Linked DNA regions of Homo sapiens: regions 1 and 3 are each linked to region 2. The links come from fine-mapping of genetic effects on gene expression. A gene starts in region 2. Each other region holds a variant in brackets. All regions are shown on one strand. Distances are from middle to middle.

Region 1 (9,407 bases), 36 kb before region 2:
ACCTCCTCTCTTGTTCCCTCCAAAGCTCTGTTTCTCTGGGTCTCTTTTCCTTTCTCTTGGTTGCACTTGTTGCTTGCTCTCTCTGGGTCTCCATCTTCATCCCCCCCGCAGGCCCTCAGTTTCTGTCCCCGTTTGTCCTCACAAGGCATAGACTGGTGTACTTTCTGCACAAGTAGAAAGACTGGTTGGGTGAATGCAGCCTGGTTCCACCCTTTAGGAAGCTTCCCTGCTGGGGCAGCTGCAGGGAAGGTTGCGGTGGGCCCACCGAGGGGCATCTGACCTGACCTGGGAGACAGGCCCAGGAAGGTCTGAGAGGGGGTGATGTTTAAGCTGAGACCTGGACCAGGCAGGGGGGCTAACAGCTGCAGGAAGGGCTTCAGGAGGTGCTTTAGGAGGAGCATGCATCTGCCTGTGTGCTTAGGAAGCTGGGCAGGATGCAGCAGAGAGGAGAGAGGTGTCCACTCTGCAGGAGACAGTGCCACCAGCTGCAGGGCTGAGATAGTGGGTGTAGCAGGATAGGACGGTGGGGTCCTGATCATCGAGGGTCAGGAGCTGGGGCTTGGCTTGTGAGCCAGTATACTGTAGCGCAGCTTCCATGGGGGGACCAGTGTGTATGCCCAGGCTGTCCAGGAGGCAGTGTGCGCGCCCAGGCTGTCCAGGAGGCAGTGTGCGCGCCCAGGCTGTCCAGGTCCAAGTCTTGGCATTGTCCTTTCTGTGCCTTCATCTGGGAAACGGCAATAGTCACGATTATACCTACTATGTAGGGTTATTTGGAAGACTAAATCATCCTCATAAAGCTCTTGGAACAGTTTCTGGCCCAACAGAAGCATTAATTTTTTTTTTTTTTCTTTTTTGAGACAGAGTCTTGCTCTGTCACCCAGGCTGGAGTGCAGTGGTGCAATCTCAGCTGAATGCAACATCCGCCTCCTGGGTTCAAGCGATTCTCCTGCCGCAGCCTACTGAGTAGCTGGGATTACAGGCGCCTGCCACCACGCCAGGCTAATTTTTATATTTTTAATAGAGATGGGGTTTTGCCATGTTGGTCAGGCAGGTCTTGAACTCCGAACCTCAGGTGATCCACCCACCTTGACCTCCCAAAGTGCTGGGATTACAGGTGTGAGCCACCGTGCCCGGCCCAAATTTTAGAAGTAGGTGGACAGGATATTTATAGTGCGTGCATTTTTCTGGAAAAAGGGAAACAGCAGCTTTGAGATTTTCAGAAGGGGTCCATATCTTTTAACACCACCAACAACAAAAATGAATCGCTGGGGTGGGTGGTCGGGAACCATGGCAAGGTTTGGAGTAGAGAAGGAACAACATGACTTCATTGGAAAGGTCCCCTGGGGCTGGTGAGGACAGGATAGAGGGAGGGTGGTCTGGGCAGGAGAGGACAGGCCTGGGCTGTGTGGGACATGGTGGCACGACAGGGAAGGGAGCCATCCAGTGGGGTTTAGAAGCAGGACGGATAGCTGGGCGTGGTGGCTCACACCTGTAATCCCAGCTCTTAGGGAGGCAGAGGCGGGAGGATAGCTTGAGCCCAGGAGTTTGAGACCTGCCTGGGCGATATAGCGAGACAGGATGGATAAGCCTTGGCGACTGACTCGTTGTGGAGAGTCCAGCACAGGGCTGGGGTTTGGGACAGCTGCACGTGGCTGGAGGAGATGGGAGGAACCAGCCCTGACTTTGGGGAACAGAAGCCTGCTGTAACCTTTGTAATAGGAAACGAGGCTGTGGCTGCGGGGCTGGAGACCCAACCTACCTGTTTCCAGCAAGGAGACTGAAGCCTAGCCGGGCTGGGCCCACCCCGATTCCAGTCACCCCATGCCAGTCACAGGCAGACAGCTGAGCATGTAGACCTCCTGCCTCCTTCAAGACAGGCGGGAGCTCTCCCAGCGTGTAGGTGTCCCTAGTGAAGGAGCGTGTACTATTGGCACATCCTTTGACAAAAATGGTAGCGCACTGTACATATTCTGCAGGTTGGCGTTTACTTCTGTAGTATGTCACGAACTTGTATTTTGAAAATCTCGGCGTAGTATTCCATGCTGCAGAGTCCCACTCACGAGACGTTCCTCTGCTGATGAATGCGTCGTGGTCTCCGATTGTTTCCCTACAGTTTGATGCTTTTACCTGTCATGGGTAGATTGTGGGGAGTGGGTCGTTGGCCCTCCACGGCCCCCAAACAGGGCAGGTGAGAGCATCTGGGGCCTGTGTCAGGCTGCACTTGCTCCTGCAGCCCAAGTGCTCAGGCCAGGCCTCTTGTTTCCTCCCCAGGCCCCTGAGCCTCTGAGCTCCTTGAAGTCCATGGCGGAACGGGCAGCCATCAGCTCTGGCATTGAGGACCCTGTGCCAACGCTGCACCTGACCGAGCGAGGTGAGGGACCCAGGATGGTGGGGAAGCAGCGGGCCAAAGAGGAGGGGCTGCCCCTGACCCATCCTCACCACTGAGGGGGCCGGACCCCCACCCTCCCCACAGACATCATCCTGAGCAGTACATCAGCACCTCCGGCCTCAGCCCAGCCGCCCCTGCAGCTGTCAGAGGTGAACATACCGCTGTCGCTGGGTGTCTGTCCACTGGGCCCTGTGCCCCTCACCAAGGAGCAGCTCTATCAGCAGGCCATGGAAGAGGCCGCCTGGCACCACATGCCTCACCCCTCTGACTCTGAGCGTATTCGGTGAGGGGCCACAGGGAAGGGGGATGGTCTGGGACTTGAGTCTTACGGAGGAGGCAGTGGCTGAACCTGTGAGGCTGTGGGTAGAGCACCAGGCCCCTGACTTGGGCTCTCCACTGAAGGTCAGCACCGCCCTGGGTCTTTCTGTACCACCTCCCCCCGCAGGGATGCATGTCTGAGCACCCTTTTGATCACGACAGGACTAGTAGGCAGCTGGCACTGACCTTCCTGTTGCTCTCACAGGCAGTACCTCCCCCGGAACCCCTGTCCGACGCCCCCCTACCACCACCAGATGCCACCCCCACACTCGGACACTGTGGAATTCTACCAGCGCCTGTCGACCGAGACACTCTTCTTCATCTTCTACTATCTGGAGGTACAGCAGGGCCCCCGGGGCAGCCTCGGGCCCCCCGGCTTCGCCGCCACCGCCGCCGTCCCCCCTCGGGCTGGAGGGGTGAGGTGGGTGCCCCACTGCGGCCACTGGGACCGCACCCCCTCCCTATTCCCACTCCTGGGCCCCTGCCCCAAATCCACCTGTCCCCGTCCCCGCCTTCCAGCCCAGAGATGTTAGAACTGCTTGGGTTGACAGCGAGGCTGGTCCACTGAGGCACACCTCAGCCCCGCTTCCAGTTGCCCACTGGCTCACCCGCGGCCCCTCCCCAGCCCTGCTCCAGCAGCCCCAGTCTAGGCCGACCCCACTCTGCTCATTGGCACATTCTCAGGCCTCCCTGGAGACCACTGGGGAGCTGTCCAGCCCCCTCCCAACCCCAGTGAGTCATGAGTGACCTCCACCCTCATCCCCACTTGGGAAATTTTCTAAATTGCCTCCTCTCTCAGCTCTCATCACACATTAGTTTTTCTTCCTTCTCAAAGCTTCTCTGAAAGCAATTTTCACCTCCTGTCTCATTTTCCTTCTCCTGATCAGCATTGGTATGTTCTGTGCCCCCAGCCCCATCTCCAAGAGGATTGTCCAGCCCAACTGTGGTCTGTGGCGGGGGCCGGGGTTCAGCCCTGATGTCCTGCCCCATTCCCCTGGCTCCCCACCCAGTTTGGGGGCCCCCTGATCCCCCTCTCCACTGTTCCTCCCCCAGGGCACTAAGGCACAGTATCTGGCAGCCAAGGCCCTAAAGAAGCAGTCATGGCGATTCCACACCAAGTACATGATGTGGTTCCAGAGGCACGAGGAGCCCAAGACCATCACTGACGAGTTTGAGCAGGTGAGGGCCCCGCCCCCTCTCTTCCCGCTGCTAGGGTTGGGGTAGAGTCCCCAGGCTCCAGGCAGCCCCTGCTGGCCTCTGCTCCCTTGCCTCCACCTTTCAGCTGGCGCAGTCCCTCAGCCTGACCAAGTACTCCTCCCTCTGGCTGTCTGCTCAGCCTGGAACACCGCCCTCTCATCCTCCACTTGGCCAGCTCCTAGGCCTCCTGTAGGTCTCAGCCCAAATGTCCCTTCCTCAAAGAAACCTTCCTGGAGCCACCCAGCCCAGTGCCTCCCCTTTGCAGTGCTGGGCACACTCGCCTGGGGTGTGGGATTTTCCCAGTATGTGTCCCTGCACCAGGCTGTGGGCTCTGCTGCCGAGGGACCTTGATGGCCCCCACTTCACCTCCAGGTCCCAGCACTCAGCAGGGCAGGGGCTCAGTGC[G/C]GAAACTATTTTTTTTGAATGGGCTTCTCAAGTTCTAATACTGGGAAATTCCTGCTGCTTGCAAACACTCTGGAACCAACCTACCTGGGTTTCAGCCCAGTCCAGCTGGGCGACTCTAGGCAAGTCACTCGAACCTCTGTGTCTCAATTAACTTATCTGTAAAAATGGGGGGAAGACCACCTACCTAATGCAGTTGTTATGAAGATTAAATGAGTTAATAACATGTAAGTACTTAATGGTGACTGCTACATAGTCAGTGTCATGGATTTTTTTTTTCAAATTACTTTCAGTTGGTGTGTTCTACAGTGATGTTTTTTTCCACCAAATACTTCCCTGATGCCGAGCCCCTTCATGGGGATGAAGTAGTACAAGGTCCTTGTCCTCAGAGAACTCAGTCCCCTCTCCTGGTTCTCCCAGGTTGCCATCTTTGAAGCACTTAAGACATTCATTTAGAACCTAGGTCCTCTCCCATTGTGTCCTCAGATGTTAACCACAGACTTCCTGTCCTTTCCTGGTTTGGCCCAAAACCATCCTCCAAGTTAGTACATTTCAGGGCATCCAGTCATTCAGAAATTCCCACACCACTTCGTCACCAATAAAATGTCCCTGCAGAGTGCTTGGATTTAGACTCTGAGACTGTTCCATTCTCTAGAACAAGGGTGACAGTACCCACTGCCTCGAGGTCTTTGTGAAGATTAAATGCTAGGCTGTGCATCCTGTACTCACGTGAGAGGTGCTCAAAAGCCACAGCCCTCGAGGAAACGAAGGCTGTGCACTCACACCTGGGGCTGGGGCCCCGTTCTGGCAGCTGGCTTCGGTGGAACCTCTGCGGCCCCCTCCGTTTCCTCCTCGCTGAAGTGGCATGATAACATTTCCTACCCAAGAAGAACCTTGTGAGGATGGATGAGAGTGTGTGCGTGCAGGGCAGCTGGCCCGGTGCCTGACACATCCACAGCCCTAAGAATTGTCCCCTTTGTCTGTTGGTCCGGCCCAGATCCCAGACCACCTCCTCGTCCACTCACTGACCGCCTTCTCCCCCGGCCAGGGCACCTACATCTACTTTGACTACGAGAAGTGGGGCCAGCGGAAGAAGGAAGGCTTCACCTTTGAGTACCGCTACCTGGAGGACCGGGACCTCCAGTGACACCGGCCCCTCCCTCTACCCACCCCCTTCCCCCGCATGCTGATCCCCCTGCCCAGGTGAGGGCCCTGCCCTGGAAGACTGGAGGGAGGCCCCAAGCCACGGGGCATCCCCCTCTCCCAGGAAGCAGGGAGGGGGCCGGGAGGTTTTCCTCTCAGCCCCACCCTGGGGGCCCGGGGGCGAGGGCTGCCCCCTCCTCCCCTCCCCAGTGAGGGACATTTTTTGGTAAACCTATTTTCATTTTGGAAAATATTTATGAATAAATAGTTTTATATGACGGCTGGCAGCAGCGGCCTCTCCTGTACCCCCTCAGGAGTCAGTGAGTAAGGTGAGGGTCCTGCTGGCGGGGGCGCCGGGCCAGCTGGGGGTTGAATTGGGAGTTGTACCGCCGCCGCCGGTCATCCGTCTCGTCTTCTTCCGGCTGACCCTCCTGTAGTGCCCGGCCTTGGACCCGGGCCAGCAGGGCCTCTGCCCGAGACCTCTCAGCTGCTTCCCTCCGCAGACGTTCAGCTCGAAGCTGGTCCAGGGATGGAGGCCTGTGGGGAGAGGAGTGAGGTCAGAAAGCTGGTAGCCCCTAGGAGGCCATTCCCCCAACCTCTCCCATAGAGGGAGCTGCCGCCTGGAAGCCCCGCTGCATCCAGCACACCCCAGCCTCAGCTCCTTAGGCCTGCTGGAAGCAGCCACTTGGTGCTGGGACGCCATGGGCACGTCTCTGGCCTTCCCTTCTGTGGGCTTTGGTCCTCCCCAGTCTTTAAAATCTGATGCTTCTCCAGGTCAAGAAAGCACACTTAGCAGCCCCCTGGCCCTCAGTTTCCCTTTCTAGAGGAAAGAAGACTACAGGCAGTGTACCCCCTCTAGACCAGGGGTGCAGCATCCTGGAGACAGAAGCCTGCTTTTACTCTCTAACCCAGCAGCTCTCAAACTCTTTGGTCTCAGGACCCCTTTATACTCTTAAAAACCAAGGACCCCAAGAGCTTTTGTTTAAATGGGTTCTCTTAATATGCTGCAAATCATTAGTGAAAACTAAGAAAGTTTGGACACAAGCATCTGCCATTGGCCATCAGAGTGAGGGTGTCTCCCCATCACACAGCCTCTGGAAACCTGCACTACATGCCTGAGAACACGAGTGGAAAAGTCCACCAGTGTCAGGAAAATAGGCTTGACACCACAGCACCCCGGGAAAGGGTGTCAGGACCCCTAGGGCTCCCTGGACCACATGCTGAGAACCACTTCTCCACCTAGCCAGCCCTTCACGGAGTCCCTGGCTGTCCTGACCAGAGACGCTGCAGTGCCCATGCTGGGCTGCTGCCAAGCCCTGAAGGTCTGGGCCCTGGTCTGCCGAGGTGGGGTCTTCTTACTCCTTGGGTCGCTGCTTCTCAGACCCCTCCTTTTCCTTTCTGCTGCGACTGCCTTCATCACCGCCGTGCTGTCTCTTCTTCCCCAGATGCTTCTGCATCTCCCGCAGAGGGTCCAGACGGCTCTTGATCTTCTCATCTGGGGCTGGGCCGGGCGGGGGGCCCCCTCGCCCTGGGGGTAGCTGGTACCAAGGGGGTTGAGTCTGTGCCTCCGCTGCACTCTGGCCCAGGTATGTCAGGATGCCCAGAGCTTTCTCTTGCCTCTCCTGAGGGGGCCAGGAAATACAAGAGATGTGATATAATCTTTCAAGGTGTCAGGTGTGTCTCCCTGACACAGGTATCTAAGCGAACAGGTATCTAAGGCTTGTTATGAACCAGTTGGACCAGGTGCTGGGGATGGAAGACAAACAGAGGCAAAGCTCCCCCTGGGGGGACAGTAGCAGGTACAGTAACAGCAGGGGAAGGAGGGGACAAGTGGAGCCACTTGAGTGTTCAGAGGCAGGCATCTTTGCAGAGAGACTTGAAGAGAAGCCTGAAGGGATCAAGCAAAGCAGAGGAGCGATGGGTGGGGTCAGCAAGTCCAGAGACAGCAGATAAATGACAAGAGCTGATGTACCTCTTTTTTTTGAGATGGAGTCTCGCTCTGTTGCCCAGACTCGAGTGCAGTGGCACGATCTCGGCTCACTGCAACCTCTGCTTCCCAGGTTCAAGCAATCCTCCTACCTCAGCCCCCCGAGTAGCTGGGATTACAGGCACACACCACCATGCCCAGCTAATTTTTGTATTTTTAGTAGAGACGGGGTTTTGCCATGTTTGGCCAGGCTGGTCTTGAACTTCTGACCTCAGGTGATCCACCCACGTTGGCCTCCCAAAGTGCTGGGATTACAGGCGTGAGCCACCATGCACAGCCACTGATGTACCTTTTACACTTGATCTTAGCCAAAAAGCAAGAGGCGATTGATTCACTTTTTGTTTGATTGTTTTGAGATGGGGTCTCGCTCTGTCACCCAGGCTGGAGTGCAGTGGCGCAATCTCGGCTTACTGCAGCTTCCACCTCCTGGGTCAAGCGATTCTCCTGCTTCAGCCTCCCTGGGATTACAGGCGCGCACCACCATGCCCGGCTAATTTTTTTTGTATTTTTAGAGATACCATGTTGACCAGGCTGGTCTTGAACTCCTGACCTCAGGTGATCCACCCGCCTCAGCCTCCCAAGGTGGTGGGATTACAGGCGTGAGCCACAGCCGGCTGATTTAAATTTTTAAAAGCCCATCAGGTTTGAGACTCCTCCAGTTTGGAGAACTGAGCGGTTTGCCCAGCAGCTGGGGACCTCTAGCATCTACCTCCAACCCCTGTGGGCGCCCAGACGGCAATAGCCAACGCTTTTTGAGTGTCATGCCTTGGTATGGTCCTAAATTCTGTGTGTTCACTCTTGTTTGACCTTGGTCACAACCAATGGCTAAAGTGCCCCCTCCCTCCAACTCGATTCATGGCCCCTCTGATGAAGTGGGTGAGGCCAGCTTACTTTCTCCTGTCGCTTTTCTTCCTTGTACTCTTTATTGCCTCTGATCACTCCTTTCCCTTCCTCCAGCAGCTCCCGAAACAGGTCCACAGGGCCAGAACCTGGGGCTCCCGCCTCTGCTGCTTCAAGCTCAGGCAGTGAGTTCTGATGTCTGGCTTTCTTCCGTAGGAATTCTGTACGGGCCTGGGGAGAAAGTTATAGGCAGGACATTCAGAACCTAGAGGTAATTCAAGAACTGTGAGTCTGGTGCCCACCACAGAAAATGGCAGTCCAGGGTGCTGGGGTTATGAGAAAGGGAGCACTAGGCGCCTAAAAGAGGCACCTGTCCTAGCTGGGGGTGAGGGTAGGCAGATGAGGCAACGCCTGGGTTTTGTAAACTCCCTTTCAAATAGTAAACCACGGGTCATCAAGGATGTATGGGAGGAGGTCCCTGGCCTAAACCAAAGGGGTTCCTAACCTCAAGTGAGACAATTAAAACAGCCATAAAGGTATGCATTAGGCCAGACGATCTGAATTCTAGCCATGGCTCCAAGTGACTACCCCAAGTCTGCTGAAGCCCTGTCCCCTGCCTTCAGGACGCGGATTTCAAACAGCGCTCAGCAGCCTACTGAGATTCTAAAAACCTAGACTACCTCCCACCCACGGCGGAGGATCAGACTAGCTAAGGAAATGAAAGTTGGGTGTACACCAAACAGATTTAAAGAGCCATACGGAAAGCCCGTGTTTGTGTGTATGTGTCTAGGGGGCGGTGCACGAAAGGGCTCGCCCGATGGCGTGGAGCCTGGCTGTCCGCCTCTCCTTAAAATGTGCCTTCCCCTCACTGAAGCCATCTCACTTCGTGCAACAGAGATGACAGTGCCCCTCTAAGAACGAACAGTGCTTATTGGGGATTCCGCAAGTCAGGTGCACGGCATGTAGTTAGCATACAGTAGATGCTCAATAAATAGGCTGTGCAGGCAAACTAAAAAGTGATCCGAATTTCCTTGAACTGTCCAAGGGTTCACGGATTCATTAAATGTTAAGCTTCTCTTTTGTGCTAGACACTGTTCCAGCCATGTGAAATACATCAGTGGGGGAAAAACT
Region 2 (9,543 bases):
CTTGCCCTGTTCCACTTCAATTCTCCTTCAGCATCCAGAACGAGTTTTCTTTCTTTTCTTTTCTTTTTTTTTTGAGATGGAATCTTGCCCGGGAAGGCCCAGGCTGGAGTGCAATGGCGGGATCTTGGCTCACTGCAACCTCCACCTTCCAGGTTCAAGCAATTATCCTGCCTCAGCCTCCTGAGTAGCTGGGATTACAGGTGTGAGCCACCACACCCGGCTCATTTTTGTATTTTTAGTAGAGACGGAGTTTTACCATGTTGGCCAGGATGGTCTCAAACTCCTAACCTCAGGTGATCTACCCGCGTCAGCCTCCCAAAGTGCTGGGATTACAGGCGTGAGCCACCCGCAGCTGGCCTAGAATGAGTATTTCTATTTGTTTATTTATTTTTGAGATGGAGTTTTGCTCTTGTTGCCCAGGCTGGAGTGCAATGGTACGATCTCAGCTCACCACAACCTCCGCCTCCTGGGTTCAAGCAATTCTCCTGCCTCAGCCTCCCGAGTAGCTGGGATTACAGGTATGTGCCACCACGCCCAGCTAATCTTTTGTATTTTTAGTAGAGACAGGGTTTCTCCATTTTGGTCAGGCTGGTCTTGAACTCCCGACCTCAGGTGATCCGCCTGCCTCAGCCTCCCAAAGTGCTGGCATTACAGGCGTGAGCTACTGTGCCCAGCCAGAACGAGTATTTTTAAACATTTAAAACTGGTCACATTGCCTCTTCTGGCAGCAAACCAAAAATCCCCTCTTCCAGCAGATCTCAATCCTCCACGGGAAGAAGTCCAATGTCCTCACGGTCTCCAGCCAGGCCTAGCACGGTGTCAGCCCTGCTGCCTGTTCCCTTTTGCTCGTCCCAGAAAGTGGATGTGGCTGGTGTAGCCTGTGGAACCCAGCCTGCTCCCCTCCACACATCCTGCGGCCTGAAATGCTCCTCCACGAACCCCTCTCTCATCCAACCTACTCCTGCCACCACTGAGCTCCCACAGGGCACACTGAATGCTGGGAAGGCCACTCCCTACCTAGCATGACTGCTGTGTTCACGGATAAGCCGCCAGTAGGAAACCATGACTCTGTGGGTCTGGGGTGGGCCCTAGGATTCTGTTTTTACCCCTCTTCCCAGGTGATTAGGAGCCAGACCTGGATGCCCTAGTTTTGTTCCCTTCACCAAGTACCTTCTCCCCAGAGCTGGTTTTTCTCCTTTGCAAAATAGCTGGCTACAGAGATTCAAGGACAGCATGTTGGTAAACCACCCAGCTGGGCCTCTGGCACACCGCAAGCACCCAATGGCACCTACTGTTACCCTATGTGGGTTATTTCCTCACCCCAGGAGGAGCTGGGAGGTGAAGACCTGCCCAAGGGCATGTGAATGGGGAATGCTGTGCCCAGGGCAGCAAGTGAGGTGACGTCCCACCCCCAGGGTGTGTTGGAGGTAAAATCCCGGGGAGCCACTGAAGGGGGAGGTAAAGTGGGAGGTGAAGGGGCCCACAGGGAGGCTGGAGGGGAGTGGCAAGCCCCGAGTCTGACCTTCAGCGTCAGCAGCAGCTGGACGGCATTGGTGAAGGGCGTGGGAGTGGGCAGGCCCAGGAGGCTGAGGGCTCGGAAGAACAGGAGATAGGAGAAAGTCCAGGCCAGAGCCAGGGCGTGGCAGGAGCTGGGCAAAAGCAGGAGGCGCACTGTGTTGGGCACAGAAGTCTCGGCCTTGGCCACTCACTCCACGAGTCCAGCCACCAATCCTCCCCCAGCTCTCCCCATTCGTTTAGAGACAGAAACACAGAAGGGCAGAGAGGACAGGAGGGTGGATGTAGGGACCGAATGAGTATGATTGAAACAGTGGGAGAAGAGGCTCAGCCACATAGAAACACACACCAACAGAGAATGAGGTTAAGAGAAGCTTCGGGTGAAGACCCTGCAATCCTCCACTTTTTCTTTATTTCCGAGGTCCAGGGCTCAAGAAGAGAGAGGTGGATATGAATGAATATGAACGGTGGCCAGGCCAGCAGACACACTGTCCACCTCTCTCCATGACATGGATGTAGCGGACTGGGACAAACACACAGGGACCAGACGCAGAAGGCAGGGGAGAAAGAAAAGCAGATGAAGGCCGGATGCGGTGGCTCACGCCTGTAATCCCAGCACTTTGGAAGGCTGAGGTGGGCAGATCACAAGGTCAGGAGTTCGAGATCAGCCTGACCAACATGGAGAAACCCCAGCTCTATTAAAAATTCAAGATTAGCCAGGCATGGTGGAGCATGCCTGTAATCCCAGCTACTTGGGAGGCTGAGGCAAGAGAATCGCTTGAACCCGGGAGGTGGAGGTTGCAGTGAGCCAAGATCGTGCCACTGAACTGCAGCCTGGGCAACAGGAGCGAAACTCCATCTCAGAAAGAAAGAAAGAAAGAAAGAAAGAAAGAAAGAAAGAAAGAAAGAAAGAAAGACAAACAAACAAACATGAAACAGAGAAATGAGCTGATCAACAAGAGACAGCTAGACATGAGGCAGAAGCTGAAAAAGACTCAAAGAGGAAACAGGTTGCTTCCCCCTCTCCCCTCCTCTCCCTCTCCTCCCTCCACCAAATTCTCACCAGGGCTGGGCCTGAATGAGGGCCCAGGTCCCGAGGATGGTGACCAGAGAATGCAAAGTGTGGGGGCCACAGGTGAACAGGGTGAGCCCCAGGCCCACAGCGGCTGCTCCCCATCTCTTCAGCCCAGGACCTGCAGGGGGAAGGGACAGCATAAGCCTGGAACCTTCCAGAGGGTCCCCCCCCTTTATTTTCCACTGGGGAGGGAGCCTGACTCACCGGCTTTCTTAAAGAGGAAGCCGATGGGGATGGAGATAAGAAGAACCACTAGATACGTCCATTCTTCAGGCGACATGGTCTGGGGGAGGGGCAGAGATTCACAGTGAGAACCCAGGAATCCAGGCCCCCTGCCTCCTCCCTCTTCGAGGATCCAGGAACCCAGCCTTCTAGACCCCAGTTTTTGAGGATGATGGAGTATGAGCCTCAGCTCCTCTCCTTTGAGAACCTAGCAACCCAGACTCCAGCCCCTTCCTCCTTGGAGGAGACAGGAATCCACCCCCAGCCCCTCCTTTGAGCGCACAGGCCTCCAGCTCTCCTGTCCTTGGAGAACCCAGGAAAGTGTGGGGATCTCCCAGCACCCAAGCCCCTCCTTTGCGAACGCAGAAATCAAAGCTACTCCCCGCACCCATACTGGGGACCCAGATTTGAAGACGCCCCTCTTTTAAAAACCCAGAAACGGCACCCCTCCCGGACCCTTCCTCTTCGACAGCCCAGGAATCTAGACCTCCGAGCCCCCTCTTCCAGCGAGGATCCAGGAACCCAGACCCCCTCTTTGGATCCCCCATCCCCCGGCCCTTGTGAAACCAGATATCCGGACCCCCCAGCCCTTCTCCTTCGAGACCACCCAGAGGAGCCCGGGTCTCCAACCTGCACCTCCTTCGGAGCTCCACACCCCTCTCCTACTGAGAACCCGGGGATCGAACACCCTCCCCTCCCCAGGCCCAGGCCCAGGCCCAGCCCCAACCCGTCCCGCGCACCCCAGCGCATCCCCGGCAGAGCCACAGGCGGTTGCGCCAGCCCCGAGTTCCAACGCGCCTCCGGGGCCGCCCCGCACCCGCCAGCCCGCAGAGACCCTGCCGCCGTGTAACCTCGCCTCGCCACTGGGCGCCGCCACCCTGGCCCACCTGAGCTGCTCGCCGGGCAGGAGGCGGCCGAGCAGTCCCAGCCCGCTTGCCGCCGCAGCTCCGGCCACGCCTCCCCCGCCCAGCGCGCCCCCGCGCCGCCTGCTCCTTCTGGGCGCCCGCCGGGCTGCGCAGATCAGGCCGGGGAAGAAGCCACGGTCAGGGCCCCGGGCGGGCAGGGAAGAAGCCCCGGAGCAGAAGCCGAGAGCGCGAGTCGGCAACGGGATTCGAGTCCAGGTCCACACTGGGATCCGAGCTCCGAGTACGTGAAGGGGCGGGCCTTCGGGCTCGGAACAAGGAGGAGCCAAAAGCTTTGGACCCGAAGGGGAACAGACGGGCTCTGGAAAGGAGGCGGGGTCTGGAGCTCGGCGTGAGGAATGAGGCGGGGTCTCCCTTCGGGTTCCTTCGGGCACAATCGGGAGCTTGAGTTCTCCGGAAGCGGGGCCACAAACTTCGGCTCACTTCGGCAATAGTCGAGAACGGAGAGCTGAGGCCACTGTGGGCGGAGCCACATGTTTCGGCTTTCTTCGGAGGTAGTCGAGTCCTTAGGGTCACTGTTCCGATGTGGGCGGGGCCACAGACTCGGCCGGATGTGGGTGGGGCCACAAGCTTCGGTTTACTTCGTAGATAGTTGGGTACAAGTGACGCTAGGATGATAGGCGGAGTCAACAGGTTCGCCAGACACCCATGAGTATTTACAAGGGGGCGGGGCGAAAGCGACTTGCCCTCAAAGGGGCGGAACCCCGAGGGCCGGCGTGCGCCTACGGGACCGGGCCAGGATGACGATCCTCAAGTTCCCAAGTAGAGGAGAGGAAGCGGCAGAGGGAGGTGCGCTCAGTGGGGCGGAGCCAAGGTGGCCCCCGCGGGAGGAGGGCGGGGCTTCGGTCCTGCGAGGGGCGGGACCTGACTTCCCGCGGCGCTGATGGGGCGGGATGACGAAGTTGACGAGGGTGTCGGCATGAGGGGGTGGAGCAAGGAGCGCGTGGCGCGGTGCGCAGTGGGTGGCTCCACCTCGACTGCGAATTACTGTTTATGAGGTGACTCGCTGGTTCTATCGGTGGACAGTGGGACATTCTGAAGGGAGGCAAGGAGGCGGACTGAGCGCTCCCAATTGGGGTGAGCCCGCCCGAGCGGAGAGTGGACGGCGGGTGTCCAGGGGGCGGGGCTTTCGGCTGTGGGGTTCGGTCGTAGGGCGGGAACTCCCCAACTGGGGTGCGCTGGCGCTCGGAGGGGGCGGGGCCACAGGCCGCGAGGCTGCCGGGAGCCGATGACGCCCGAACGCCGAACCTATTGCGTCCGGGAGGAGGCGGGGCTACGGATTCGGCCGAGCCGAGAACACCCGAACGTCAAATTGCTGGCGTTCGAGAAGGGGGCGGGGCTGCGGATTCGGTGGAGCCGAGGACGCCCGAACGCCGAACTTCCTGTGCTCGGGAGGGGGCAGGGTTTTGTACTGTGGGAGTCTGAGAGCGAGGAGGTCCGAAAGCCGAATCACAGTCGTTCGGAAAGAGGAGGAGCGAAGGCTCGAGCGTCCGGAAGAGGGTGTGGCCTCGGCGGTGCCTTAGCCTCCAGAGCTTCTGACCGCTGACGGGAACACCCGAAGGGGGACGCCCACTTTGCAAGAGGGTGGTGCCAAAATGGACCTTTGTAAGGGGGCGTGTCGCCGCGCTTGCGGAGGTTTGTTTTTCACGCTCCAAGGCGCAATGGTAGGTACGGCAGTGCGGGCACAGAGCGGGTGCCGACCGCAGGGTCACAAGGGTAGAGCGGGACCCTGGGGGCTTGGCGAGGGGAGAGGGTCGGGGGCTTGTCTCCGGCGTCTCGTCTCCGGCGGCCGCGAGGCCTGGTGGGATCGCCCGGGGGCGGGGCCTGGCGCTCGGGCCCAGCAGGTGGTGAACGGCGGCTGAGCGAGGCCCCGCCCCCTGAGGCCTAGGGGCGGGGCTTCGCCGAGACCCCGGAGGCTTTGGGTGCGCTGCAGCGGTCCGCGGCGCGCAGCTGTTTCGGTAACTGCTTTGCCTCCCGGCTCCCGCAGGAGGATGCTGGTGGTGGAGGTGGCGAACGGCCGCTCCCTGGTGTGGGGAGCCGAGGCGGTGCAGGCCCTCCGGGAGCGCCTGGGTGTGGGGGGCCGCACGGTAGGCGCCCTGCCCCGCGGGCCCCGCCAGAACTCGCGCCTGGGCCTCCCGCTGCTGCTGATGCCCGAAGAGGCGCGGCTCTTGGCCGAGATCGGCGCCGTGACTCTGGTCAGCGCCCCGCGTCCAGACTCTCGGCACCACAGCCTGGTAAGGGGGCGGGGCTCGAACTCGGGTTCGGTGGGAGCGGGACCTGGGAGTCAAGTTTCCTGGCTTCTGAAGGGACCATAAGCTTGGAGGTTCCAGCGAAGTGTGCTTCTCAGGCCCTGACATCCTTCAAGCGCCAGCAAGAGGAGAGCTTCCAGGAGCAGAGCGCCTTGGCAGCTGAGGCCCGGGAGACCCGTCGTCAGGAGCTCCTGGAGAAGATTACGGAGGGCCAGGCTGCTAAGAAGCAGAAACTAGAACAGGCTTCAGGGGCCAGCTCAAGCCAGGAGGCCGGCTCGAGCCAGGCTGCCAAAGAGGATGAGACCAGTGATGGCCAGGCTTCGGGAGAGCAGGAGGAAGCTGGTGAGCATGGGAGGTGGAGTCCAGGGACCACGGGAAGGAGAGGAGAGATCTTTTAGGAATTTTAGCTGGGAATCCAGTGCCTGGGTCTCCCTGAGGGTGAGAAGACTTTACCCCTTGAATTTACCAAACTCTTCTCTGTACTCCCCACCAGGCCCCTCGTCTTCCCAAGCAGGACCCTCAAATGGGGTAGCCCCCTTGCCCAGATCTGCTCTCCTTGTCCAGCTGGCCACTGCCAGGCCTCGACCGGTCAAGGCCAGGCCCCTGGACTGGCGTGTCCAGTCTAAAGACTGGCCCCACGCCGGCCGCCCTGCCCACGAGCTGCGCTACAGTATCTACAGAGACCTGTGGGAGCGAGGCTTCTTCCTCAGTGCGGCTGGCAAGTTCGGAGGTGACTTCCTGGTCTATCCTGGTGAGTATGGGTTGGGGCCTCTGGTTGCTGTGCCTTTCCATACGATCCCAATGTATTCTGCGTTTTTCTTTTTTTTTTTTTTTGTCTTAATAGAGGTGGGGTCTCTTGTTGCTTAGGCTGGTCCCTATTCCTGGGCTCAAGCAATCCTTCCACCTCGGCCCCCCAAAGTGCTGGAATTATAGGCCCAGCTGCATTTTTCTTTTTTGTCTCACTTTCTCTTAGCCTCTGAAATTCATAGACAGACAGGAAACATTTGGGAGCTCCCGAACTCATTGGGCAAGCAGTTTAACGACTTTTATTAAATGATTACTGTGATCCAGAAGATTCACTTAGAAGTAGTTAGACATCAGGCTGGGCGCAATGGCTCACGCCTGTAATCCCAACACTTTGGGAGGCCAAGACAGGTGGATCACCTGAGGTCAGGAGTTTGATACCAGTCTGGCCAACATGGTGAAACCCCATCTCTACTAAAAATACTAAAACTAACTGGGCGTGGTGGTGGGTGCCTGTATTTCCAGCTACTCGGGAGGCTGAAGCAGGAGAATCATGTGAACCCAGGGGGCAGAGGTTGTAGTGAGCCAAGATCGTGCCATTGCACTCCAGCCTGGGGGACAAGAGCGAGACTTTGTCTCAAAAAAAAAAAAAAAGCCTAGAAGTGGAATAGTTGTGTCCAAGAGCATCTGTTTTAGAGTATCTATAGTGATGGCTGAAATGATCTCAGATCTCCTCCCAGTGGTCGTTCCCGTGGCGTCCAGCCGTCTGCCATTGGTCACTGCTTCAGTGCCTCTCTCCTTCCCCCAGGTGACCCCCTCCGCTTCCACGCCCATTATATCGCTCAGTGCTGGGCCCCTGAGGACACCATCCCACTCCAAGACCTGGTTGCTGCTGGGCGCCTTGGAACCAGCGTCAGAAAGACCCTGCTCCTCTGTTCTCCGCAGCCTGATGGTAAGGTGGTCTACACCTCCCTGCAATGGGCCAGCCTGCAGTGAACTCCAGAGACCTAGGGGATGTGGCTGTGTCGGCAGCAAGAGCCTTTCTGGATGTTCCCCAGCTCTTCTCTGGGAGTCTAGAACATCCTCCTACCTTTCTCCGCGGTTAGTTTTTGATTCCAGGTTTTCGAACACTACATCTTTTTTATGTTCTTCCTTGTTTCAAAGCACTTATTGGCTGTGTTTTTGTAGTTACCTATTTTCACACTGTGAGCTTCCCGAGAATGGGGCCTGGGTTTGATTCATCTGTTTTCTACAGGGTTTAAGTCTCAGGAGGTCTCAATAAACTTGGTATATAAATGTTCATGATTTGAATGTTTGCGACAGTCCTGGAACCCGTGGATGGTCTCATCTGCATGTACAGGTGAGAAAAAGGCCTGGAGGAGGGGGACTGACTTGCCCAAAGTCACACACTTAGTAAATAGCAGGCCTGGCCTTTCAAAATTGGTTTTTCTGACTCCTAAATCTGCACTCTTTCTACCTCACTAAACTTCCTTTTGAAAAGATTTCTATGAAATTTCCCAGATGCATACAAACGTTATAAATAAAAATATAGGCTGGGCACGATGACCCACACCTGTAATCCCACAGAACTTTTGGAGGCCAAGGCAGGGGGATCGCTTGAGCCCAGGAGTTTGAGACCAGCTCTGGCAACATTGTAATACCCAGTCTCTACAAAAAATAATTTAAAAAAAAATTAGCCAGGGATCCCTTGAGCCTGGGAAGTTGAGGCTGCTGTGAGCTGTGATTGCACCACTGCCCTCCAGCCTGGGAGACAGAGCAAGAACCTGTCTCAAAAAATATATATATGTGTGTGTGTATATATGTAAATATACACACATGTATGTATATATATGTGTGTGTATATATATATATATTATGAAAGGAAATGAGTATTGTAATTTTAGGAGTTCAGAGCCTGGGGAGAAAGGAAGGACTCTGGAAGGCGTTCTGCTTTTTCATGGCCTGGGTAGTGGTGAATTTTTTTGATACTGTATATTTATATTTTAGACTCTTTTTTGGATGTGTTATATTCTGCAATTTTTATAAAAGCTAAAACACATGTATTTGTAAAAAATTTGCACTTATGAAATCATTTACCCATGTTTTTGCTTAAGAAAGTACTAGAACACTACCACTATTCCAATAATTACACCTTTATCTTATCAATGTGCAGTTTTATTTTGTCACGTTTATTTTGTCAGTGTAATACATTCACATGGTGAGTCTGGGCGTGGTGGCTTATGCTTGTAATCCCAGCACTTTGGGAGACCAAGGCGGGCGGATCATGAGGTCAGGAGTTCCAGAGCATCCTGGCCAACATGGCCCGCCTCTATGAAAAATACAAAAATTAGCCGGGCGTGGTGGCGGGCGCCTGTAATCCTAGCTACTCCGGAGGCTGAGGCAGGAGAATCACTTGAATCTGGGAGGTGGAGGTTGCAGTGAGCCAAGGTCACGCCACTGCACTCCAGTCTGGGCGACAGAGCTAGACACTGTCTCAAAAAAACAAAAACAAACAAAAACTTCCACATGGTAAAATTCTGGGGCTGAAAGTCTCCACCTCTAGTTCTTCCATTTCTTCCCCCCATGTTTCATTCTTTCTCTTTTTTGTGTGAATTGAGCAGCCTCTGGAACCAGAATAGGTTTAGAGAGACTCCCATCTCCCCTCTTTCTTGCCATTCCCAGTAAACAGACTTCATAGAATCTCAATTTCCTGTAAGTTTAGATTAATTTAAAATATGACACTGGGCCAGGTGTGGTGGCTCACACCTGTAATCCCAGCACTTTGGGAGGCTGAGGTGGGCAGATGAGTTTGAGA
Region 3 (9,599 bases), 120 kb before region 2:
GTCAAGGAATATGGCTGCTCCATAGGCAGAGCAGTCCAGAGGGCTGTCAGTCGGCTATTTTTGTGGTTATTTCTTGATCGTATGCTAAACAAGGGGTGGACTGTTCATGAGTTTTCCAGGAAAGGGGAGGGGATTTCCCTGGAACTGAGAGTCCCTCCCTCGTTTAGCTTCTGGAAGTTGCCATGGCATCTGTAAGCTGTCTTGGTGGCGGTGGGAGTGTCTTTTAGCATGCAAATGCATTATAATTAGCAAATAATGTGCAGTGAGGACGACCAGAAGTCACTTTTGTTGCCATCTTGGATTTGGCAGGTTTTGGCTGGCTTCTTTGTTGCATCTTTGTGTCTTTGGGTCTTTGTGACCTGTATGTTGTGACCTGTCTCATCCTGTGACTTAGAAAGCCTCAACCCCCTGGGAATGCAGTCCAGCAGGTTGCAGCCTCAGTTTACCCAGCCCCGGTTCAAGATGGAGTCACTCTGGTTTGAAGGCCTCTGATTCACCTGGAGACACATTCCGGCTGTACCAGGCCTCCACCAGGAAAGCTCCCATGATAACCACAATTACGGCAGCCAGACCCAGTCGTACGAAGTTACCCAGGGAGTAGTTGCTCGATGTGGTACCTGGGGGAACTGAAAGAGAGAAGGGGCTCAGCACTGACCCTCAGAGGGTATCCCTCCTTCTCAAATGGCCCCACCAAATCTGACTATCATCACCCACTTAATGTTTTCGGTTTTTTGGTTTTTTTTTTTGAGACGGAGTTTTACTCTTGTTGACCAGGCTGGAGTGCAGTGGTGTAATCTCAGCTCACCACAACCTCTGCCTCCCAGGTTCAAGCCTCCCTGCCTCAGCCTCCCAAGTAGCTGGGATTACAGGCATGTGCCACCATGCCCGGCTAATTTTATATTTTTAGTAGAGACGGGGTTTCGCCATGTTGGCCAGGCTGGTCTTGAACTCCCGACCTCAGGTGACCCGCCCACCTCAGCCTCCCAAAGTGCTGGGATTACAGGTGTGAGCCACCGCGCCCGGCCACCCACTTAATGTTTTCTAGCCAGTAGTCCACTGTACTTTAAAGTTTTAATTGAACTTTTTTTTTTTCTTGAGATCAAGTTTTGCTCTTGTTGCCCAGACTGGAGTGTAATGGCACAATCTCAGCTCACTACAACCTCTGCCTCCCGGGTTCAAGTGATTCTCCTGTCTCAGCCTCCCAAGCAGCTGAGATTATGAGCATGTGCCACCACACCCGGCTAATTTTGTATTTTTAGTAGAGACGGGGTTTCTCCATGTTGGTCAGGCTGGTCTCGAACTCCTGACCTCAGGTGATCCACCCGCCTTGGCCTCCCAAAGTGTTGGGATTATAGGCATAAACCACCATGCCTGGCCATAATTGAGCTCTTTAAAGTTTTAATCCCTGAAAACAAAAGATGGAATCTTTGTTGTTGTTTTTGAGACGACGTCTCACTCTGTTGCTCAGGCTGGAGTGCAGCGACGCAGTCTCGGTTCACTGCAACCTCCACCTCCTGGGTTCAAGCGATTCTCCTGCCTCAGCCTCCCGAATAGCTAGGATTACAGGCACCTACCACCACACCCGGCTAATTTTTGTATTTTTAATAGAGATGGGTTTTCGCCATGTTGGCCAAACTGGTTTCGAACTCCTGGCCTCAAGTGATTCGCCTGCCTCGGCCTCCCAAGGTGCTGGGATTACAGGCCTGAGCCACCGCGCCCGGCCAAGATATGCAATCCTAATGAGTTGTAATGGGAGTTCCTTTATCTTCCTTCCTTGATATTCACTCCACCTTAGCTCTCTTCCTTCGTTTATTTGCTCTTTATCCCATTTCCACCTTCCCACATTGCCTTTTCTCCTCCCGCATCCTTATGTTAAGGAATAGTCTTGGGGCAGCACATGAGACGGAAGGAGCTCTACAGAGCCCCGAATTCCGTGGCTGGATCAGCATCCTCGCAGCACACACTGCTGTGCAGCAGTGCACCTGAGAAAGTTTGAGTTGAGGCCGGGCACAGTAGCTCACGCCTGTAATCCCAGCACTGTGGGAGGCTAAAGTGGGAGGATTGCTTGAGGCCAGGAGTTCGAGAGCAGCCTGGGCAACATGGCGAAACCCCATGTCTACTAAAAATACAAAAAAATTAGCCGGGTGTGGTGGCGGGTGCCTGTAATCCCAGCTACTCAGGAGGCTGAGGCAGGAGAATTACTTGACCTGGGCCTGGGGTTGGGGGGTGGAGGCTGCAGTGAGCTCAGATTGTGCCACTACACTCCAGCTTGGGCGACAGAGTGAGACTCCATCTCAAAGAAAACAAACAAACAAACAAAACCCTAGCCTCCAGATTTTCAGGGAGGCTGATTTGAGTAATAATAAAACTCTGATTGGCCAGGTGCAGTGGCTCATGCCTGTAATCCCAGCACTTTGGGAGGCCCAAGCGGGCAGATCACGAGGTCAGGAGTTCGAGACCAGCCTGGCCAATATGGTAAAACCCCATCTCTACTAAAAATACAAAAATTAGCCAGGCAGGGTGGCACACATATAGTCCCAGCTACTCGGGAGGCTGAGGCAGAAGAATCGTTTGAACCTGGGAGGCAGAGGTTTCATTGAGCCGAGATCGCGCCACTGCACTCCAGCCTGGGCAACAGAGCAAGACTCCGTCTCAAACAAACAAACAAACAAAAAAACTCTGGTCTCCCACTTACCTGGCTCAATGTGTATTAAACTCTTTTTTGCAATTCCTCTGTCTTGATGAATGGGCTTCATCCAGGCACCCGGCAAGAGCTGTAATGTAACTCATTACAGCAGTTACAACAGATGAAAAATAATTTACAGAGCTGAGGAAGCAGAGTGCTAGCACCCAGTAAGGCAGGAAACAAGATACTTTCAGAAGAATTCTAGCAGTCAATAAAAGACATGGGTAGACTTCGCATCCACGGCATAGAAGCAGGAGGCTGTGCAAACACCATGTTCTGAGGATGAGATAATTTTTTTTTTAAATTTGAAACTGGGTCTCACTATGTTGCCCAGGCTGGTCTCAAACTCCTGGGCTCAAGCAATTCTCCAGCCTCAGCCTCCCAAAGTGCTGGGATTACAGGCCTGAGCCACCACACATGACTGAGAAAGAATTATTGAGAGTGAAATCACTAACACCAAGAAAAAACAAAACACGCCATGCACAGTGGTTCACACCTGCAATCCCAGCCCTTTGGGAGGCCGAGGTGAGCGGATCACCTGAGGCCAGGGGTTCAAGACCAGCCTGGTCAACATGGTCAGAACCCCATCTCTACTAAAAATACAAAAATTAGCCAGGCGTGGTGGCGGGCACATGTAATCCCAGCTACTCAAGTGGCTGAGGCAGGAGAATTGCTTAAACTCGGGAGGCAGAGGTTGCAGTGAGCTGAGATCGCACCACTGCACTCCACCCTGGGCAACAGAGCGAGACTCTGTCTCAAAAACAAAATGAAACAAAACAAAACAAAAAACCAAAACGCTAAGAGATGCAAAGACTGGTAGAAGGAATCTGGTGCTGGTAGATTCATAATTTTCAAAAACAGCCTAGAAATTTTCCAAGGATGTAGTATAACAAAAAGGCAAAGGAGGGCCGGGCACGGTGGCTCACACCTGTAATCCCAGCACTTTGGGAGGCCGAGGCAGGCAGATCACCTGAGGTCAGGAGTTCAAGACCAGCCTGGTCAACACGGTGAAACCTTCATCGCTACTAAAAATAGAAAAATTAGCCGGATGGGTGGTGCAGGCCTGTAATCCTAGCTACCTGGGAGGCTGAGGCAGGAGAATCACTTGAACCTGGAAGGTGGAGGTTGCAGTGAGCGAAGATCGCGCCATTGCACTCCATCCTGGCAACAGAGTGAGACTCCATTTCAAAAAAAAAAAAAAAAAAAAAAAAGGCAAAGGAGTGGAAATTGTGAAAGGGAGGTTTTTTTGTTGTTTTGTTGTTTTTGTTTTTGTTTTTTGTTTTTTGTTTTTGAGACAGAGTCTCACTCTATTGCCCAGGCTGGAGTGCAGTGGCAAGATCTTGGCTCACTGCAACCTCCGCCTCCCATGTTCAAGCAATTCTCCTGCCTCAGCCTCCCAAGTAGCTGGGTCTACAGGTGCATGCCATCATACCTGGCTAATTTTTTATTTTTAGTAGAGACGGGGTTTCACTATGTTGGCCAGGCTGGTCTCAAATCCTTGACCTCAGATGATCCATCCACCTCGGCCTCCCAAAGTGCTGGGATGACAGGCATGAGCCACCACGCCAGGCCAGAAAGGGAAGATTTTGTTAAGAGCGATGATATTGTAAGTAATGAAGAAATGAGATTCACAGAAGAACAAAACAATCTCTGATTAAAAACAACACACACAGTTCCTCAAAACCATACACGCCCTTACCTGTCACCAATATCTCAAGCTGATCACTGGGTTCTGAGGCCCAGAAGGGAGACTTTGTCTGGTAGTACATGCAGCTGTAGTTCCCAGCATCGCCGGCTGTCACGTCCACCAGAGAGAAGTCTATCTCCTTCCCCGCTGGACTCTGCAGCTGGATGGGTGATGGCGTCCCTGCCTTCAGTAGAGCGAACATGATAGGCACAAACAATTGGTCTCGCTTCTGGCACTGCAGAGTCACCCTTCCACCTGCGGTCACTGTACCCCTTTGGTAGGTTCGGAGGAAAGGTTTAGATAAATGTCCTGTAAGAGAAGTCAGGTTCTGAGGTCCTGGGGAGAAGTCTGGAATCCCCCACTCACCCCTGTTCTCCTGGCCGGAGGCTCTCGTGGAGTGTGGGAAATGAGAGATTCCTGATCTCTTCTACCTTCCTCCACTTCC[T/C]ACTCCGACCCCAGGACAGAGATTCTCCCTCCTACAAGACCTGTGTAAGGCCTGGCATGGTGGCTCACACCTGTAATCCCAGCACTTTGGGAGGCCAAGGCGGGTGGATCACCTGAGGTCAGGAGTTCGAGACCAGCCTGCCCAACATGGCGAAACCCTGTCTCTACTAAAAATACAAAAATTAGCCGGGCATGGTGGCAGGCACCTGTAATCCCAGCTGCTCAGGAGGCTGGAGCAGGAGAATCACTTGAGCCCAGGAGGCGGAAGTTGCAGTGAGCCGAGATGGCACCACTGCACTCTGGCCTGGGCGACAAAGTATAAAACCAACATATGCAATTTCGTTCCTGTCTCTCTCCCTCTCCCACCACCCCCAACTACTCTGAAGGTGGGACCCCTTTTCTCCCTCTGTTCCTCCACTTCCTCCCTCATCCCCTGTCCCCCGTATGTCATTGGCAGGCACCCTGTCTGTACCTGTCACCAACAGTAGAAGGACGTCACTGTGCTGTGAAAGGATGTGGGGGGATGCTTTTCTGTAGTATTCACAGGTGTACTCTCCAGCATTTCTGACTTTTAGATTATTGAGGTGAAATTCGGCCGCGCCCTCTGTAGAATCAAGGGGCTTCGGGGACTCCAGAATAATTCCTCCCTTCCTGAGAACAAAGCTCACACCTCTGGCAGGAGTCCAACATCGCAGCGTCACATTGCTGTTGGCAGGGACCACCGAGCTGGGCCAGGCACTGAGGGACGGCTTGGGCAGTGACCCTGGAAGGAAGCAGAGCCTGATGCTGGACCCGATGCCCTCCCCTGCTCTCAGGAAGCCCTTTTTAAAATTTATTATTATTATTATTATTTTGAGATGGAGTCTCCCTCTGTTGCCCAGGCTAGAGTGCAGTGGTGCAATCTCAGTTCACTGCAACCTCCGTCTCCTGGGTTAAAGCAATTCTCCTGCCTCAGCCTCCCAAGTAGGTGGGATTACAGGCACGCACCACCACACCCAGCTAATTTTGTATTTTAGTAGAGACAAGGTTTCACCATGTTGGCCAGGCTGGTCTCGAACTCCTGACCTCAGGTGATCCACCCACCTTGGCCTCCCAAAGTGCTGGGATTACAGGCGTGAACCCCTGAGCCCAATCAGGAATCCCATTTTAAGAAGGGAAGCGGGCTGGGTGCGGTGGCTCACGCCTGTAATCCCAGCACCTTGGGAGGCCAAGGCAGGCAGATCACGAGGTCATGAGATCGAGACCATCCTGGCCAACATGGTGAAACTCCGTCTCTACTAAAAATACAAAAATTAGCTGGGCGTGGTGGCAAGCACCCGTAGTCCCAGCTACTTGGGAGGCTGAGACAGGAGAATCACTTGAGCCCAGGAGGCGGAGGTTGCTGTAAGCCGAGATTGCACCACCGCACTCCAGCCTGGCGAAAGAGTGAGACTCCGTCAAAAAAAAAAGAGAAAAAGAGGGGGAAGGGGAAGAGAACAGCAGGGGATTTGGGATGACAGGCCAAGGAGGGTGTAGTTGAAGAAACACTCACCATCTCCCCTTGTGTCTCCTTGGCCCACGCACAGTCCTGCAAGACAATCCTCCGTGAGCCAGAAGCCCCTACCTGGAGCCACGTCACCCCCTGCCCTGACCCCTGGAGATCGTCCCAGAGTCTCCTGCTGAGAACAGACCCTTAGAGGTCATACGCTCAGGAGTTCTCATTCTCCCCACACTGGACTGTGGCTTCTGCTCGACTTCCAGCTCCTCCATCCTTTCCCAGAGATTCTCCTTGACCATCCTGTGTGGCTGTCACCTCCCCCTGCTCCAGGCCTTTCCCACAAATCCTTCCATTCTCATCTTCTGTTTGAAAACAGCACTCATTCTTACCATTTCTTTCTTTCTTTCTTTTTCTTTCCTTTCTTTCTTTCTTTTTTCTTTCTTTCATTCATTCTTTCTTTCATTCATTCCAGAGACAGAGTCTCGCTCTTTCTTTCTTTTTCTTTCTTTCTTTCTTTCTTTCATTCATTCTTTCTTTCTTTCATTCATTCCAGAGACAGAGTTGCGCTCTGTCGCCCAGGCTGGAGTAGAGTGACGCAATCTCGGCTCACTGCAACCTCCGCCTCCCGGGTTCAAGTGATTCTCCTGCCTCAGCCTCCCAAATAGCTGGGATCACAGGCATGCGCCAGGACGCCCGGCTGAGTTTTGTATTATTAGTAGAGACAGGGTTTCACCATATTGGCCAGGCTGGTCTCGAACTCCTGACCTCAGGTGATCCACCCACCTCGGCCTCCCAAAGTGCCGGGATTACAGGCATGAGCTTTGTGCCCAGCTTCTTTTTATTTTTTAATTTTTCATTTTATTATTGTGTTTTGAGACAGGGTCTCTCTCTGTTGCCCAGGTTGGAGTGCAGTGGCTCCATCATGGCTCACTGTAGCCTCCCAGGCTCAAGTGATCCTCCCACCTCAGCCTCCCGAGTAGCTGGGATCACAGGTGTGCACCACCACACCCGGCTAATTTTTTAGTCTTTCCCAGAGACAGAGTCTCCCTATGTTGCCCAGGCTCATGATCTCTTTTAATCCCTTCATGACTCCAAACAGGACAAAATTTATTGTTTGGTGTCCTGTAACAAGCCTCAAAACATCCAAATGGTCATTCCAGAAAGGGGAAAGCATACGTTCCTCCCTGTTTCACACATGGCTGCATTTGCTCTTCCTCCTTTTTAATTTTTTTTGATAGAGACAGGGCTGGGCTGGTTAAGAACTCTTGACCATGCCGGGCGCGGTGGCTCCCGCCTGTAATCCCAGCACTTTGGGAGGCCGAGGCAGGTGGATCACGAGGTCAGGAGTTGAAGACCAGCCTGGCCAACATGGTGAAACCCCGTCTCTACTAAAAATACAAAAATTAGCCAGGTGTGGTGATGGGCGCCTGTGATCCCAGCTACTCAGGAGGCTGAGGCAGAGAATCGCTTGAACCCAGGAGGCAGAGTTTGCAATGAGCTGAGATCGCACCACTGCACTCCAGCCTGGCCACAGCGCGAGACTCAGTTTCAGGAAAGAAAAAAAAAAGAGAAAGAAAAGAAAAAACATAATATCAAGCCTGTTTATGAACATTATCATAATAATGAGATTGATCTAACTCAAAGAAAGTTAGTTAGGCCTGTGTCTCTGAGAGATTTCCTCTTTTTCCCCTGTGTGAACAGTTTTAGGTCTCAGCAGGAAAAAGGAGAAGTTACCAGGCGTTTGTGCTACTATTACATCCATGAGCCAATCCATAAACTGACACTTCAAGTTTTGCAAAAGGAAATTGTGAACACCCAAAATGTTCAAACAACGTAAGTGTCCATCCATGGAAGAATGGATAAACACAGTGTGCTCTATATATTCAATGGGATTTTTCTTCTTTTTCTTCGTTTTTTTTTTTTTTTTTTTTGAGACATAGTTTCATTCTTGTTGCCCAGGCTGGAGTGCAATGGCGCGATCTCGGCTCACTGCAACCTCCGCCTCGCGGGTTCAAGTGATTCTCCTGCCTCAGCCTCCCAAGTAGCTGGGATTACAGCTCACTGCAACCTCCGCCTTGCAGGTTCAAGTGATTCTCCTGCCTCAGCCTCCCAAGTAGCTGGGATTACAGCTCACTGCAACCTCCGCCTTGTGGGTTCAAGTGATTCTCCTGCCTCAGCCTCCCAAGTAGCTGGGATTACAGGCATGCACCACCATGCCCAGCTAATTTTGTATTTTTTAGTAGAGACAGGGTTTCACCATGTTGGTCAGGCTGGTCTTGAACTCCCCACCTCAGGTGATCCGCCCATCTTAGCCTCCAAAATGCTTTTTTCTTTTTCTTTTCTTTCTTTCTTTTTTTTTTTTTTTTTTTTTTTTTGAGGCAGGGTCTCGCTCTGCTGCCCAGGCTGGAGTGCAATGATGTGATCCTAGTTCATTCCAGCATCAACTCCCTGGGCTCAGGTGATCCTCCCACCTCTGCCTCCCGAGTAGCTGGGACTACAGCTGCACACCACCATGCCCAGCTCATTTTTGTTGTTGTTGTTGTTTTTAATATTTATTTATTTATTTTGAGATGGAGTTTCGCTCTTGTTGCCCAGACTGGAGTGCAATGGCATGATCTCGGCTCACTGCAACCTCTGACTCCTGGGTTCAAGCGATTCTCTTGCCTCAGCCTCCCAAGTAGCTGGGATTACAGGCGCCCGCCACCACGCATGGCTAATTTTTATATTTTTAGTAGAAATGGGGTTTCACCCTATTGGCCAGGCTGTTCTCGAACTCCTTACGTCAGGTCATTGCAAAAAAAGTGCTGGGATTACAGGCGTGAGCCACCATGCCCAGCCTCATTTTTGTATTTTTTGTAGAGACAGGGTTTCACCATGTTGCCCAGGCTAGTCTCGAACTCCTGGGCTCAAGCGATCTGCCTGCCTCAGACTCTCAAAGTGCTGGGATTACAGGTGTGAGACACTGTGCTCGGCCTACAGTGGGATTTTAGCCATAAAAAGGAAAGGAAATCTGACATATCCTACAATATAGATGTAGCTCGAGGATATTATGCTGAGTAAACTAAGTCAGGCAAAAAAGAACAAGTGTTATGATTCCACTCATACATCCTAGAATAAGCAAATTCATAGAGATAAAAATTAGAATGGGCTGGACACGGTGGCTCACGCCTGTAATCCCAGCACTTTGGGAGGCCGAGACAGGCAGATCACAAAGTCAGGAGATCGAGACCAGCCTGGTCAACATGGTGAAACCTTGTCTCTACTAAAAAAAAAAAAAAAAAAAAACTTAGCCAGGCATGGTGGTG

What was found.
Region 1: its variant is fine-mapped to the expression of MBOAT7 in whole blood (TOPMed, PIP 0.96).
Region 3: its variant is fine-mapped to the expression of MBOAT7 in whole blood (TOPMed, PIP 0.98).

Annotation. Positions count from the first base shown.
Region 1 is chr19:54,149,955-54,159,361 of GRCh38, forward strand. CNOT3 (CCR4-NOT transcription complex subunit 3) reads left to right here. Exons shown (of 18, transcript NM_014516.4): 14 at 2,272-2,371; 15 at 2,474-2,672; 16 at 2,913-3,045; 17 at 3,761-3,886; 18 at 5,355-5,727. The coding sequence ends at 5,453. It overlaps LENG1 (leukocyte receptor cluster member 1), which reads right to left. Exons shown (of 4, transcript NM_024316.3): 2 at 8,328-8,507; 3 at 6,809-7,071; 4 at 5,207-5,986. The coding sequence ends at 5,767. LOC102724273 (a long non-coding RNA gene) reads right to left here and starts at 2,273. Exons shown (of 4, transcript XR_001754001.3): 1 at 1,760-2,273; 2 at 3-724. RefSeq lists an enhancer at 9,100-9,407. The variant G/C (reference allele first, on the strand shown) is at 4,310.
Region 2 is chr19:54,185,639-54,195,181 of GRCh38, forward strand. MBOAT7 (membrane bound acylglycerophosphatidylinositol O-acyltransferase MBOAT7) reads right to left here and starts at 3,942. Exons shown (of 8, transcript NM_024298.5): 1 at 3,700-3,942; 2 at 2,795-2,873; 3 at 2,579-2,708; 4 at 1,523-1,649. The coding sequence starts at 2,870. TSEN34 (tRNA splicing endonuclease subunit 34) reads left to right here and starts at 5,670. Exons shown (of 4, transcript NM_001077446.4): 1 at 5,670-5,969; 2 at 6,083-6,326; 3 at 6,478-6,735; 4 at 7,537-8,894. The coding sequence starts at 5,727. The coding sequence ends at 7,724. RefSeq lists enhancers at 3,270-3,955, 3,956-4,637, 6,606-7,122 and a silencer at 5,560-5,761.
Region 3 is chr19:54,069,535-54,079,133 of GRCh38, forward strand. It overlaps TARM1 (T cell-interacting, activating receptor on myeloid cells 1), which reads right to left. Exons shown (of 5, transcript NM_001135686.3): 2 at 6,349-6,384; 3 at 5,290-5,580; 4 at 4,386-4,682; 5 at 361-626. The coding sequence ends at 469. Among named protein-coding and RNA genes, the nearest start is that of TARM1, 7.0 kb to the right of the region's middle. The variant T/C (reference allele first, on the strand shown) is at 4,819.